Homo sapiens: one gene and its partners. The protein of the gene in region 2 purifies or fractionates together with the protein of the main gene of each other region. This does not show direct contact. Each region holds a gene or a part of one and is shown on either strand. Other genes may lie near its edges.

Evidence for each region. Proteins that work in one complex are often made in the same cells at the same time.
Region 1: the proteins of SUB1 (region 2) and PRCC purify together in Homo sapiens (affinity purification with mass spectrometry, with the first as the bait; one large-scale study listed by BioGRID). This does not show direct contact.
Region 3: the proteins of SUB1 (region 2) and SBNO1 fractionate together in Homo sapiens (co-fractionation; one large-scale study listed by BioGRID). This does not show direct contact.
Region 4: the proteins of SUB1 (region 2) and COPZ1 purify together in Homo sapiens (affinity purification with mass spectrometry, with the first as the bait; one large-scale study listed by BioGRID). This does not show direct contact.

The regions. Positions count from the first base shown.
Region 1 is NC_000001.11:156,798,535-156,801,315, forward strand, and holds the end of PRCC (proline-rich protein PRCC), read left to right. Parts: intron 1-1,839; coding exon 1,840-1,926; 3' UTR 1,927-2,281; downstream 2,282-2,781. UniProt on the Homo sapiens protein: May regulate cell cycle progression through interaction with MAD2L2.
Region 2 is NC_000005.10:32,595,557-32,599,056, forward strand, and holds part of SUB1 (activated RNA polymerase II transcriptional coactivator p15), read left to right. Parts: intron 1-3,404; coding exon 3,405-3,500.
Region 3 is NC_000012.12:123,362,048-123,366,207, forward strand, and holds the start of SBNO1 (protein strawberry notch homolog 1), read right to left. Parts: upstream 2,801-4,160; 5' UTR 2,654-2,800; intron 1-2,653. UniProt on the Homo sapiens protein: Plays a crucial role in the regulation of neural stem cells (NSCs) proliferation. Enhances the phosphorylation of GSK3B through the PI3K-Akt signaling pathway, thereby upregulating the Wnt/beta-catenin signaling pathway and promoting the proliferation of NSCs.
Region 4 is NC_000012.12:54,349,131-54,352,346, forward strand, and holds the end of COPZ1 (coatomer subunit zeta-1), read left to right. Parts: intron 1-489; coding exon 490-528; intron 529-1,345; coding exon 1,346-1,393; 3' UTR 1,394-2,716; downstream 2,717-3,216. UniProt on the Homo sapiens protein: The coatomer is a cytosolic protein complex that binds to dilysine motifs and reversibly associates with Golgi non-clathrin-coated vesicles, which further mediate biosynthetic protein transport from the ER, via the Golgi up to the trans Golgi network.

The DNA.
Region 1 (2,781 bases), on a different chromosome or scaffold from region 2:
AGCAGCACTTCGTATGGGTCTTATGGTGTTAAGATTTATGGGCTGGGTATGGTGACTCACGCCTGTAATCCCAGCACTTTCGGAGGCTGAGGCGGGCGGATCACGAGGTCAGGAATTCGAGACCAGCCTGACCAACATGGTGAAACCCTGTCTCTACTAAAAATACAAAAAATTAGCCAGGCGTGGTGCCTGTAATTCCAGCTACTCAGGAGGCTGAGGCAGGAGAATCGCTTGAACCCGGGAGGTGGAGGTTGCAGTGAGCTGAGATCGCGCCACTGCACTCCAGCCTGGGTGAGACTCCATCTCAAAAAAAAAAAAAAAAAAAGATTTATGACATTGTACGCAATGAAAAACACGAGAACTGAGAGAGCACATTTTACTGTGATATGCAACATACTAGAGAGACAAGCAGCTCCCGTGGAAATGATTAGCATTACGTGGTGTTTTAAGCAGGTACAATACTTGAGCTCACTGCAATAGCAATAAGAGGTGGCTGTGAAATTATGACAGTACAGTGTGTACTACAGTGAATTTTATGCAGTTAAGATTTAATGCTGTATCTTTTTGTTGATGTTTCTCTTGACTACAAATGGCACCATGTATGATCTGTATTTGTGTGTGTACATTTTGATAAATTTTAACTTTCTATAGATTTGTGTATATTTTATGGTAGTAATGATAAAAATAGACTAGTACCTACATATATTTTATGCATTCACAACATACCTTTTTCTTAGTTTTTTTAGTATTTCTAAGTTACACAGTTTGTGTTTTCAAGTTGTCACGAATTTCCAAAAAAGTTCTAATATATTAAATATTTATTAGAAAAAAACCCATGTATGAGTGGACCTGTGCAGCTCAAACTCATGTTAAGGGTCAACTGTATTTAGTCATTAAATATCTTTTTAAGACTTATTGAACTAAATGGTGTCAAAGATACAGACATGAATAAGACCCTTTCCTGGCCCCTTTCCTGGGAAGTGTACATTCTGGTTGGTGATTTCATGGCAAATCTTGCTTTCATTGTTTTTGTCATATTTTCACCTTCCTTTCAGGAACTCCTTTGTACTCTTTCCCTGTCTTGTGGTTTGTAGGGAAAGGATTTGAGAGTAGGATATTATTTAAACTCAATCTCTTAACCCCCACCCCAAATTCCAAAGGAGATGAGCAGGCATCAGATAACTTTTGGAGGGTCTTGAGAATCCCCTTTCTAGGGTGGTACTTCTACATTCCAGAATGTGGTATAGAGCCAGGAGTTGTTGAGATCAGAAGAAAGAAGTCATTCTTGTACCTCTCAGTTTTTCACAGCTTCAGTCATTACTTTAAAATCCTTTGAATTTCTAAGGTACCACACACTGTATTCAACACAACTGCAAAACTGTATCTCCAGGCTAAGCAATTGTTTGTTGGTGTTCTGTTTTGACTGGTCCAGAGGAGCCTTTGAGACTGTCCTCTCCTACTCTGCCGGCTGGGTGTCTAAGAGAGCTGATTGTCTTCCTCTCTAAGAGAGCTGATTTTCTTCCTTTTAGATGCTAAATTCTAGTTTTCATTTGCCCATTTCCTATTTCACCTTTTGAGTTTTAATTCTACTAGAGGAAGCACCAGGATTCTTGAGTCTTTATTTTGCTTAAACCTTGATAACTGTCCAAAGAAATGATTTTTCTTTGCTTTCTTGGGGCCTTTCCCTTTTACTTTGATAAGTCTTTCAAGGGGTTTGCAGTTCCCCCATAATCGTTTTGATAGGAGAAAGATTTTAAATTGGGAAGCTCACAGAGGCAAGAGGACAGCGTTTCTCAGAATTCCAGTTTGACCCTCCCCTACCCTTCTTCCTTGCCACAGGCCAAGGAGCGGGAGCTGGAACTGAAGAACACCTGGTCAGAGAACAAGCTCAGCCGCCGTCAGACCCAAGCCAAATATGGATTCTAGGGCTCTGGAACTGATTGCTCCCAGGATCTCCTGCCAGCCCAGCTGGCCTGGCCCCCAGCTTCACCTCTGGGACCCCAGCTGCTCTAAGCCCAGGATCTCTTTCCCCAAGGACCCAGCCCTCGCCTCTGCGAGAATGAACATATTTGATAGATTTTTCTTAACAAGTTAGAAAATTCAGCTCCTTTCTGTCCTGGAGCTAGCAAAGACTTGTGTGATGCCTCCGAAGGGGCTCTGAGTTCTGGGGTGGGAGTTTTGCTCTCTGTCAGGTGTGATAAAATGTTGAACCCTCCCCACCACCACTTTTTTTTTTTTAAACCAGGGATGTCTGTTGAAATAAAACATTCAGTCTGACAAACATTGCCTGCCCTGTCCCTGGATTTGTGTTTACCTTGTGTAAAGCACCTTCCAAATGATCTTGAGCTGCCTGATTGCTTTGCTATTTTTCCTCTCTATCCACCATCTAGCTGGGTTTGTGGCCATTGGAAACCCTAGAAATGGTATGCACAACTTTATATGAGGCAGGATGATTTTCAGAGAGGCCTGTGATCCCAAATATGTATTGCTAATCTCAGGTACCTCTGGAGACTGGGTGAAGTCAGGAGGTTTTTTCTGTAGTACAAAATAGTGTCAGGCATAAAAATCCTATCCAGCAGGAGGTAAAGTGGCAAAATCCCTGTCCCTGAAGATGATTCAGATTGACGCTGGTAGTCACTGGTCTGGATCAGTTTGGAAGCTTCACATTGAACTTGGGTGCTAGAGAGATACCCTTGGAGACTTCCAGAGCCCTAGCCTTCATTGAAGAAAGGAGGTACAGGGTCTGTAGACTCCAATTATCTGTAAGGCACTGTGACGCCC
Region 2 (3,500 bases):
CACCTTGGGTGGACATTGGGATTGTATCAAGTCTTGGGCTATTAGGAATACAACTGCTGTGAATATTCTTGTACAAGTCATTTTGTGGACATTTTTTCCCTTTTGGGTAAATACCAGATACATTTGCTGAGTCGTAGGGTAAATGTGTAACTGTATAAGACACTGTCAAACCATTTTCCATAGTAGCTGTAGCATTTTACACAGCCATCGGTACTACTTAGGAGATTCCAGTTGCTCCACATCCTCGCTAGATATTGTCAGTCTTTTAAGTTTTTTTCTTTTTAGTTACATTGAATGTATAATGGTAGCTCATGGTGGTTTTACTTTCCATTTCCCTCATGTACATGTCTTAATTCATTGTACATCTTTAGTGTGTTTATTGGTTATTTTTATATCTTTTGTGAAGAGTATCTTTTGGCCACTTAAAATGCCAGGTCATTTGAGTTGTAACACTTTATATATTTTGTCAGATGTAAGTATAATTAATATTTTTTTTAGACTTCAGGGAAACTTTAGTTTTCAAAGCAATCTAGTTCAAAAATGAGTGGAGGTTAACAGAGAGGAAAATATGAAACCAGAGAGAATCAAACAGACAGAATAAGGGGGGACTGGCAGTTGGTCAGGGGCGTCTGTGACAGATCTTCTCTCTCTTGGAAATGAGGTCCTCACGGATTCTGGTCAGTTCATCATTTTCTTCACGTCCACGGTTCTGCTTCTTCCTCAGGCTCTCCTCGAAGGCCAAGACCCCTGTGGCTCCAACTTGAGTGAATATTTTCTTTAGGTTTCTGGTTTACCTTTTTATTTTCTGAAGCATCTTTTTAAAAAAGGCTTTAGTGTGATTGTCTATTCTATCGATTTTTCTCCTTTTTTGCTTAATGCTTATTTTCTGTCCAAGACGTATTTTGCCTACCATGGCCACAAAAATTTTTGCCAGTGTTTTTTCCTAGAAGTTTTATAGTTTTAGTTTTCACATTTAGGTCTATAATTCATGTAGAATTAATTTCTCTGTGTATGATGTAAGATAGAGATTTAGAGTCTTCCCCACCCCAAATGCAGATAGCCTGTTGTTTCAACACCATTTGTTGAAAAGAGTATTCTTATTCCTTTGAATTACCTTGGATTTTACCCCCTCCCCCCAAAAAAATCAGTGAATATATCCAATGCGTGTGTATTTTTTGACTCCGTTGTGTTCCACTGACCTCTTATGTCTGTCTTTACTCCAGTACTGCATTGTCTTCCCTTACTATATTATAGTGAGTCTTGGAAAGTGCTAAGAGACACTTTGTTGAGGAAAGCCTGTTCTTTTCTCTGGAATTTGTAATTTGTGGTAAGCAGATATATAAGATTTTTGAAAAATAATTTTCTGTGAATATTTTTAAGTTCTCAATCTGACTGTGAGTGAGGTGCATTAAAGATGTTATTTGAAGTGAACATGAAAAGGAAAAACTTGGTTGTTATTGACTGGAACTCTGGATTCGTATATTCAGAATGGTTGGTGAAGCAGTGTAGCTAGTTGCATCTGTGGATTCCTCTTGGTTGTAGTTTGTACTGCAAAATATTGCTTCCTAATGATTTTTTTTTTTGCTGGTAAAAACCATAAAAGTATATTCACATTGTTGTGAAACAGATTGCCGAAACTGTTTCATCTTGCAAAACTGAACCTCTGTGGCCATTAAACAACAGTTCCCCTTCTCCCAGCCCTGGTAACCACCATTCTACTTTTTGTTCCTGTGAACTTGACATCATGTAAGTGGAATCATAAAGTATTACCTTTTTCCTTTTTATGACTGGCTTATTTCATTGACGTAGTATGTAACAGGATTTCCTTTTTTAAAAGCTAATTGATATTCCATTGTGTGTCTATTCCACCCCCCCTCTCCCATTTTGTTTATCAGTTCATCTCTGGGTGGATATTTGTGTTGTTTCCACTTCTTGGCTCTTGTGAATAATGCTGCTATGAACATGGGTGTGCAGATGTCTCTTGGAGTCTGTGCTTTCAATTTTTTGGGATATATATTCAGAAGTAGGATTGCTGGATCATATGATAGTTTAAACAGCAATTTCCTTTGGTTGCAGTTTTGATACTGAGAGTAGTACAGTTGACCCTTGAACAATGCAGGGTCAAAATGCAAGGCACCAACCCCTGTGCAGTTGAAAATCTGGTTATAACTTTTGACTTTGTCAAAACTGCTAAGTATAGCCTACTGTTGACTGGTAGCCTTAACAGTAACATAAACAGTTAACATATATTTGTATGTTATATGTATTATATACTGTATTCTTACAATAAAGTAAGCTAGAGAAAAGAAAATATTACTAAGAAAATCATAAGGGAGAAAAATTACATTTTACTGTACTGTATGGTGTTTATCAATAACATTAGTTTACGTTGTCTGTTTATAAGATATGTCATCTGTTAATAAAATATGTCATCTGTTAGAAATTGTAGGCAACCACAGCTGCAGATTTCAGTCCGTGGTACATATCAAGCAATTCAACTTTTTTATTTTTATTTTTATTTTTATTTTTTTGCATTTTAAAATTAAAGACAGGATCTTGCTGTGTTGCCCAGATTGGATTCAAGCTCCTGGGCTCAAGTGATCCTCCGGCCTCAGCCTCCTGAGTAGCTGGGATCATAGGCATGCACCACTGCTTCTGGCAGTTTTTTTCTTGTGATGTCATGCCTTCTCTCTGCTTCTTGGGAGCACTTTCAGCATCACTAGGGGCACTTTGTATAGGACTCATGGTGTTATTTAAAGTTTATGGTATTGCAGTAATCATGATGAAAAATAATGTGAAAACCGTGAGAGATCACTTTTTACTGCAATACGCAATTTGTTGGAGACATGAACTGCTCAGCAGAGATGATTAGCATCACATGGTGTTTTACACAAGGTGTTTTAAGCAGATACTTGTAACATTTGAGTACACTGAGATAACAGGAAGTGGCTATGAAGTTAACACTAGTACACTACTGTAGTTAATTTTATGCAGTTATGAATTAATACTCCATCTTTGTTTACATTTCTCTCTAACTTCATATAATAGATTTGTATGTTTTATGATAGTAAGTGATAAAATAACCTCATATCTAGGTATGTTTTATGCATTCATGACATACCTAACTTTTTCTTAATGTTTTCGTTATTTCTAGGCTATGCAGTTGTTCTGTGAGTTTTTTCAAATTGTCAAGTCTGCAAAAATTTTTCCAGTATATTTATTGAAAAAAATATGCATATAAGTGGGACCTGCACAGTTCAGAGCCATGTTGTTCAAGGGTCAGCAGTAGTCATTTTCATGATTAGATGTAGAGTGAGCATGCAGCAAGTTGTGAATATGAATACAATTGAAACAGATACCACTCTTGAAAGGAGCACCTCTTTTTATGTTTGTTTCTTTTGCAGATTGGGAAAATGAGGTACGTTAGTGTTCGCGATTTTAAAGGCAAAGTGCTAATTGATATTAGAGAATATTGGATGGATCCTGAAGGTGAAATGAAA
Region 3 (4,160 bases), on a different chromosome or scaffold from region 2:
ATAACCGTTTTAACCCAGGAGGCAGAGGAATGCAGTGAGCCAAGGTTATGACACCGCACTCCAGCCTGGGCGAGAGAGCGAGACTCCACCTCAAAAAAAAAAGATTCTGTTGGGCGTGGTGGCTCACGCCTGCAATCCCAGCACTTTGGGAGGCCGAGGCAAGCGGATCACGAGGTCAGGAGATCGAGACTATCCTGGCTAACATGGTGAAACCCCGTCTCTACTAAAAGTACAAAAAATTAGCCGGGCGTGGCAGCGGGCACCTGTAATCCCAGCTACTTGGGAGGCTGAGGCAGGAGAATGGCGTGAACCCGGGAGGCGGAGCTTGCAGTGAGCAGAGATCGTGCCACTGCACTCCAGCCTGGGCCACTGAGCGAGACTCCGTCTCAAAAAAAAAAAAAAAAAAAAAAAAAAAAAAAAAGGATTCTGACGGGGGGGCCAAGGGCGGTGGCTCACGGCTGTAATTCCAGCACTCCGGGAGACAGAGGTGAGTGGATCACTTGAGGTCACTAGTGTGAGACCAGCCTGGCCGACATGGTGAAACCCCTTTCTGCCAACTACATAAAAAAAAATTAGCCAGGTGTGGTGGCACATGCCTGCAATCCCAGCTACTAGGGAGACTGAGGCAGGAGAATTGTTTGAACCCTGAAGGCAGAGGTTGCAGTGAGCCGAGTTCATACCACTACACTCCAGCCTGGGCAACACAGCAAGACTCCGCCTCAAAAAAAAAAAAAAAAAAAAAAAAGATTCTGAAGGGGCCAGGCACAATGGCTCATGCCTGTAATCCCACCACTTCGGGAAGCGGAGGCCAGAAGATTGCTTGAGGCCAGTAGCTGCCTCCCAACATGGTGAGACCCCCGCCTCTCAACAAAAAAATTAAAAAAAAAAAAATTAGCTGCTGTAGTGGTGCACATCTGTAGTCCCAGCTACTCCGGAGGCTGAAGTGGGACGATCGCTTGAGCCCAGGAGTTCAAGCTGCAGTGAGCTATGACCACGTCACTGCACTTCAGCTTGAGCAACAGAGTGGGACCCTGTCTCAAAAATTTAAAAATAGCATAAATATTCCAAACGCAATTATATGGAATAAGTTGGAATGGAAGATAAAAAGCAGAAGCCAGAGAAAAAAAGTAAAGTCGTCTCCCATCGGAAAAATTTTGGAAACAACTTCTTTAAAAGATGAGAGAAAATGTTCCCTTGCTTGCAAAATTAATGTCCCACTCAAGTCACCAGTAGGAAATTCTGCTATCTTCTGTGCAACGATGATAGCTTTCCCTACGCTTATGAAAATCAATTCTGATTGCTAGAAAATATGGTGGAAAATAGAATCCCTCTGTACTGTCAGCTCGCAGAATTATCTGAAAGTGTTAAGTCAATTCCTGCTAGGGCACTCCGGATGACAGTTCTCTGCACCCTTCTGGATGACTCTTTAGAAACCATATTCCATCCCTAATTCTGGCTGTCTAGAATATATGAAACATTTAACTCAACATAAAATGATAATAGCCAACTTTCAAAGGTCAAAGGGGACCAGTTTATAACCTTCCCTCAACACGTGTTCAGTACAAACTTCCGGGTGCACTTACAATTGGCTGCGCAATTCAATGGATAAAAACGTTGCTTTATTTGTCTCTCATTTTCTGGCCCGTTCTTTTCCCACGTTTCTCAACCAGCGACTCCCCAAAACAAAAGCCTCCCACAGTAAACCGAGCACGCACATAAAAAGAGCTTCTCTGTGCGAGGATCAAGTTAGTGGTCCGCAAACATTAACCAAACAGAAGCACAAAGCAGGGGTGGGAAGGGGAGGAGCTGGATGCCAGGGTCAGGAAAGAAACAATCAGAAGGGTTTAGGAACATCCAAATCTCCTCAGCGGTTAAACCGACCCCAAACCACTTCTGGGAAACCACCGGTATCCACTGCTTTGGGGAACTCTGGATGCTCGTTATGCCAAACGCTCTCAAAGTAAGCAAATCCCCAACTGCCGTTCCCCTCCATGGGTAATTCTTAGGGTCTGGGAGGTGAGCTCGCCCGCCGAGGCAGAACTAAGCGAGTCGCCTGGAGAGGCGTGAAGGGAGCCTGCACGTGTCCCCCGCGGCTTCCCCACCGCCCCAAGAGCGGGGCATGTACGAGACCGCGCTGTGGGGTTCAGATTTAGGAAGGACGACCGCGTCGCCTGCCTCCCTCCCTCGCCCAGAGCCGGGAGCAATGCTGGGGCACGAAAGAGGACTTGGGAAGGATCCGGTCCTTACTTTCCCCGCGGGTCCCGGACCCGCAGCCCCCGGGTTGTGAGGCGGAAGCCAAAGGGGCGAACCCAGCGGAGCCGGCGTGCACAGACCCTGCCCCGCGGTCCAAGAGGGGTGCCTCCGGCCCGGGACAGCGGGGCTCCCGGAGCCCGAAAGCCCCACGAGCGGCGACAGCGGGGCCCGGCGCTGACGAACAGAGGAAGCGAGTACAACGGAGCCGCCGTCGGGAACATGCCCCCGAGGGCCCCGGAGCGCGCGGCCGCGAGGAGCGGCAAGCGGCGAGGGAGGCCCCAAGCCGGGGCGAGGTGGCTGTCCCCCCAGCCTGGCCCCGCACGGCCCCCCGAGGGTGGGAGTGGGAGGCTGTCCGGGAGGGGGAGTGTGGAAGGAGAAAAGGGCCAAGGGAAGGACTTACTTTCCCCGCGGGACCCGGCGCCAGCACAGCTCCTCCCGGGAGGTGTGAGTTTGAAGGACCAGAGGCGACTGGAGCGGAGGCGGCGGTGGCGGCGGCAGCAGCGGCGTCCTGCTCTGCCTACCTCCCCGCCGCCATCTTGACGCCCCTCCCCCAGCCCCCCCGCCCCGCCGGGAGGGGCGGGGGAGGGGCAACGGATGAGGCGCCGCGCGCACGCAGCGCCCTCACGTGACTTCCTCCCTCCTCCCCCACCCGCCTCTCTGCGCCCCTCTCCGCCCCGCCTCCCTCCTAGGTGAAGGAAGATGATTTCCCCCCCATCTTGACCACCCCCCAGTCTTCGCCGCCAAAAACGGACTCCGCCGGCTATCCTCGGCCCGGTACCAGTTGTTGGATCCAAGAGAATTCCGGAACCCAAACGGTCCATTACCGCGGCTCTGGGGTGGGCGAGGGGTGAGGGGGCCGGGTTTCCGCGAAGGGGGAGGGGGAAGGCGAAGGCCACCTAGGAGAGTCACGTGACTACTGTTTCCGCCGGCGCTCACGGAGAGCTCGCGGTAATTCCGTTTCCCCGCCCTTTTTTCCCCGCGGCCTGTCGGGAAGAAGGTCCGCGTGCCAGGGCTATCGGGAGGTCGGCCGGAGGGCCGCGCGCATGCGCCCCGCGCCTGCTTTCAAACTCCGGTTAGGAAGGGCCTGGAGCTATTTTCAGAACCTGTTAGGGTGGGGAGCTACGGCCCAGGAAGTTACCTAGCAGCGTTTCTGTCACTTGGAAGATCTCTTCATTACCTAGTTAGTCCTAGAAACAAAATGTTTACATATTCATTGCTTGTTAGGCTCGCTCAAAGCACTTTATTGGCAGTGAAACCGCAAGTAACCCGGAGCCCTCGGCGCGACCACGGCTAGAATCAGAGCCTAAGGCGTGTGAGCTCAGCCATCCCACGTCTGTCTTCACGCTCATACGCAAGCCCGACACACCGGGGCTCCCACTTAATGAATACTGAAGAGTAGGGCTGTCCCTACCGCTTCTCACTTCCTTGTTTTCATCTTTTCGTTATTATTAAGCGACCTAACACAATAAACATATTACCTTGTTGGTAACCCTTTTGTAAAGTCATTCTGAAAGTGCTGTTTGACTCCGTTGCTTGGGTAATAAGCACGCCTGGGTGATTCTTGCCCCCTACTGGCTGCGCATCCTACAAGCCTAGTGCTGAAAGCAAACCAAGTAGCTGGAACAGTTGGAGGTTACAGTGTGAACTCTTCCAGAGACAAAGTATTCGGGGAAAGAAAGGAAAAAGTAGGCACAGAAAGAATAGGAAACTTCAGTGTTTGTACACATAGATATGTATTATATATCTATGTATACATTTATAAATATTTTTAAAGTGCTAACTAATCGCTTTACTAATTACATTATTTCATTTAATCCTCTCACACACATAGAAAAAAAACCTATAAAGACAAAAATAAAAAATATTTTAGGCCGGGCGCAGTGGCTCACGCCTGTAATCCCAGCACT
Region 4 (3,216 bases), on a different chromosome or scaffold from region 2:
CCCATCAACTCCCCGCTTTGTCTTCTTAGGCTGCTGTTGCAGCAGTTTATTTCTTCAAATTAACATGCTGTCGTTACCCATCAGGCTTTGCGGGATCCATTAAACCACTCCTGGCTCCCCCTCATCCTTTCCCTAGTGATACTGATATTCAGAAAAGGCCTTTTCTGACTAGGGAATCAGGTCCTCCACCCCCACGTTAAGGGAGTTGAGGATCAGATAACCTGCTGGTTACTCTGAATGGAGTTAAATCTTTTAAGAAGTCCTCCTGCCTTAAAATGGAAGCTGGATGAAATGACCCTTTTTTGTTCATAGTCCCTCTGGCCAAGTAAAATTGTAGCTGTACTAGTCCCTAGAAGGGACTGAGAAGTTCAGTGCATCTGCCCTTTGTTTCAGTTTAAAGGATCACTTTTTTCTTCTCTAATACCAGACTCCAATCAGGTCTTACTCCAGCTTTCTCCCACACTAAATGCTTGTATCTCTGTGCCATAGGGTGAAGATGTCCCCCTTACGGAGCAGACCGTGTCTCAGGTATGACTCTCCCTTCTTCCTTTCCAGATGGACTGGGTCACTAAAGAGGCTAGAACAGCATTCCACCCATACCTCTCAAATCTGAGTGAAACTAGAGACTCAAGACACATCTTCCTTGGCTCCCTCTTATTCCAGAGAACTGGGACTCATACAGCCAGCCACTCCCTACCCCTACTTCCAACTCCTTTCTCAGTTACCTGTGAGCAGTGGCTGTCAGCCTTGCTCTGTACCCTTCAAACCCTCCCTGCCTGCCTGATGCCTCATTCAGTGATTTATTCCCCAGCAGAGGCTTGCCTTAAGCAGATGGTCTGTGTGCATTTGTGCACACACACTCTCTTTCTCTTATTATTCAATTGAGGGCTAAGCTGGAAATGCATATTCTAGAATATGCAGGTTTTGCAGATCCATCTTGCTACCTTGACTGCAGATAGATTGTCTACCTGATGTAGGGGGAAGGGAGGGGTTCCGTTTTCTACCCACTTGGAATTCTCACCAAGAAGTCCATCTGGATTTGTTACCCGCCCCCTGCCCGCCGCCCCTTTTAACATATGTCCAGTAACTCCCTTTTTTTTTTTCTTTTATACCAGGTATACCTCTTCTCTCTTCATCCCCTCAGTGGGTTTGAATTTTTTTGGAATTTTCCAAACAATCTGCTAGGGCCTTAGAGAGCTTCTTCCCATCTCTTTACCCTTGGGGATTTTCTATTCTCCATTCTTCTAAGGACAGGGAAGACAAGTGAGGGGAAGGAGATCCCCAGCCCTCATCCTTACCCTGCCCTGTCAGCAAGCTTTCCTCAATGCTGCTCTTATCTCTGCAGGTGCTGCAGTCAGCCAAAGAACAGATCAAGTGGTCACTCCTTCGGTGAAGACCTCACTGTTCCTGGCTCTTCATCCTCTTCAAAAAATTTGCATGTCTGCTGTGAATTTTCATCTAGTTCCCCAATCGATGCTCTCAGGGTCATCTCGGGGATCACAGGGATCCTTAAATCTCCATTCTGTTTGTGGTTGCCCCCTCAACCTCCCCTACACCCTTCCTATTCTTTTTCATTCTTCTTGCAGTTCTGGGAGTAAAGCTCCCAGCATATTTAGATAATAGGGCAGGGGAAGCACCCTCTTTCTTTCTAGACTGGATTATGCTCACATGCTCCCTTGCCCTGACATTTTTGTAAATTCTGTGCCCTTTGCTGTAGCTACACTTCAGATTAAAGTAGGAGAAAGAATGTGCTGAGTGTTTTCCTCCCTTTGCCTCTACCTGGCCCTCATCCCAACAGCCCAGCAAGGGGAGAGAGAAAGAGAATTCTTTTCTATAGAACGAGTGGGGGCGGGGATGGGTAGGGATTTATCCAATCTAAGCCCTAACCCCACTTAGTGACCTCAGTGTTTTCTTCCATTCCTTCTTACTGCCCTGTCCTCTGCCTTGGAAGAGGCTTTGGGAATAGTTCATAGGGAAGGGACAACATGGAAGAAACAGCGATTTAAATTGTATTGAACAGGGCATATAAAATGCATTCTGTACCCTGATCTGGCATATAGCTTCAAAACTGCAGTGGCGAGTGTCCATCTCTTAGTTAGCTACCTTAACTGTCCACCCTTACTACCTGTGGGATCGTTGCCTGGTTTGTCTTCTCTGTGTCCTGGAGCAAAGCCAGTTCCTAAAACTAAAACTCCATTCTAGTCTTGGGAAGAAAAGTTTCTACTCAGAACTGGGGAAGGAGTGGAACTTATGACTTGGGCCTCTAGGCTGTCTCTGTCCCCTCAGCTCCCCGACATGCATTTACTCTCTGCCGTGGGTCTGCAGTCGCTGCAACCTACCCTCTCTCTGCCTCAGCCTTACACCCAAGCAGTAGGTCTGTGCTCTCCCTGTCTCTAGGTCGCTGAGAGAGGTGCTTTTCTTCATAAAACCTTTGGGGTTTGGATTTCCCCAGGAAGATGGAGAATGGAATACTCACTCTTGGGTCTAATCTTTCCCCTTGACCCAGAACTTCCTCCCCACAAAAATGCCTTTAAAAACCTTCCTGAGACTTAAGCATTCTGCCCCACTTACTAACTGCCAGTTCTCCAGCACTGAGGTGGGGCAGATAACGGGGCATATTTAAGGGGGCATCTTTGTGTAAAAGATGCATGGAGTCAGGAGAAAACCACCTTCATAAACTGCTCTGTGCAAAGAGGAATAAAACATTTTTTCCAAACTGCCTTTGTGTGATGTTTCTGTTTCTCTTCCTCTCTTTTTGGCAGCTACTCCTGTTCCTCCAGCCCCCCGTCATTCCCCATCTTATAATATTTCTTCCCTCCTACCTCAGAGACTCCTAGCAGTGCCCCCCCATCCCTAATTTACGGGGCTGTTTGCCTCCTTGGCATCTCTCCGTCCCCTCGCCTGGAAATTGGCGCCAGGGGTGGGGTGGGGATGGTATTTTCTCAGTGGGAGTCCCAGGGAACTGAGTTCTTCCCCCATCACCCCCAAAGCCAGCTGCCTGCTCCCGCCTCAGCCATTAGTAACCCAGAGACGCGCACCTGCGTGGGGGCTCTTCTCCAGCCCTTGCTCACTTCCTGCACCTCCCACTCCTGCTCTGAAACGGCGCTGAGCGGGTTATTTATCGGAGCCAGCGCTGCTCCAGAAGGTCAGGACGGTGGTGTAAATAACCTCTTCTCGCCATTTCCCCGTCCCTCCAGAGCCTGCTCCCCTCCCCCT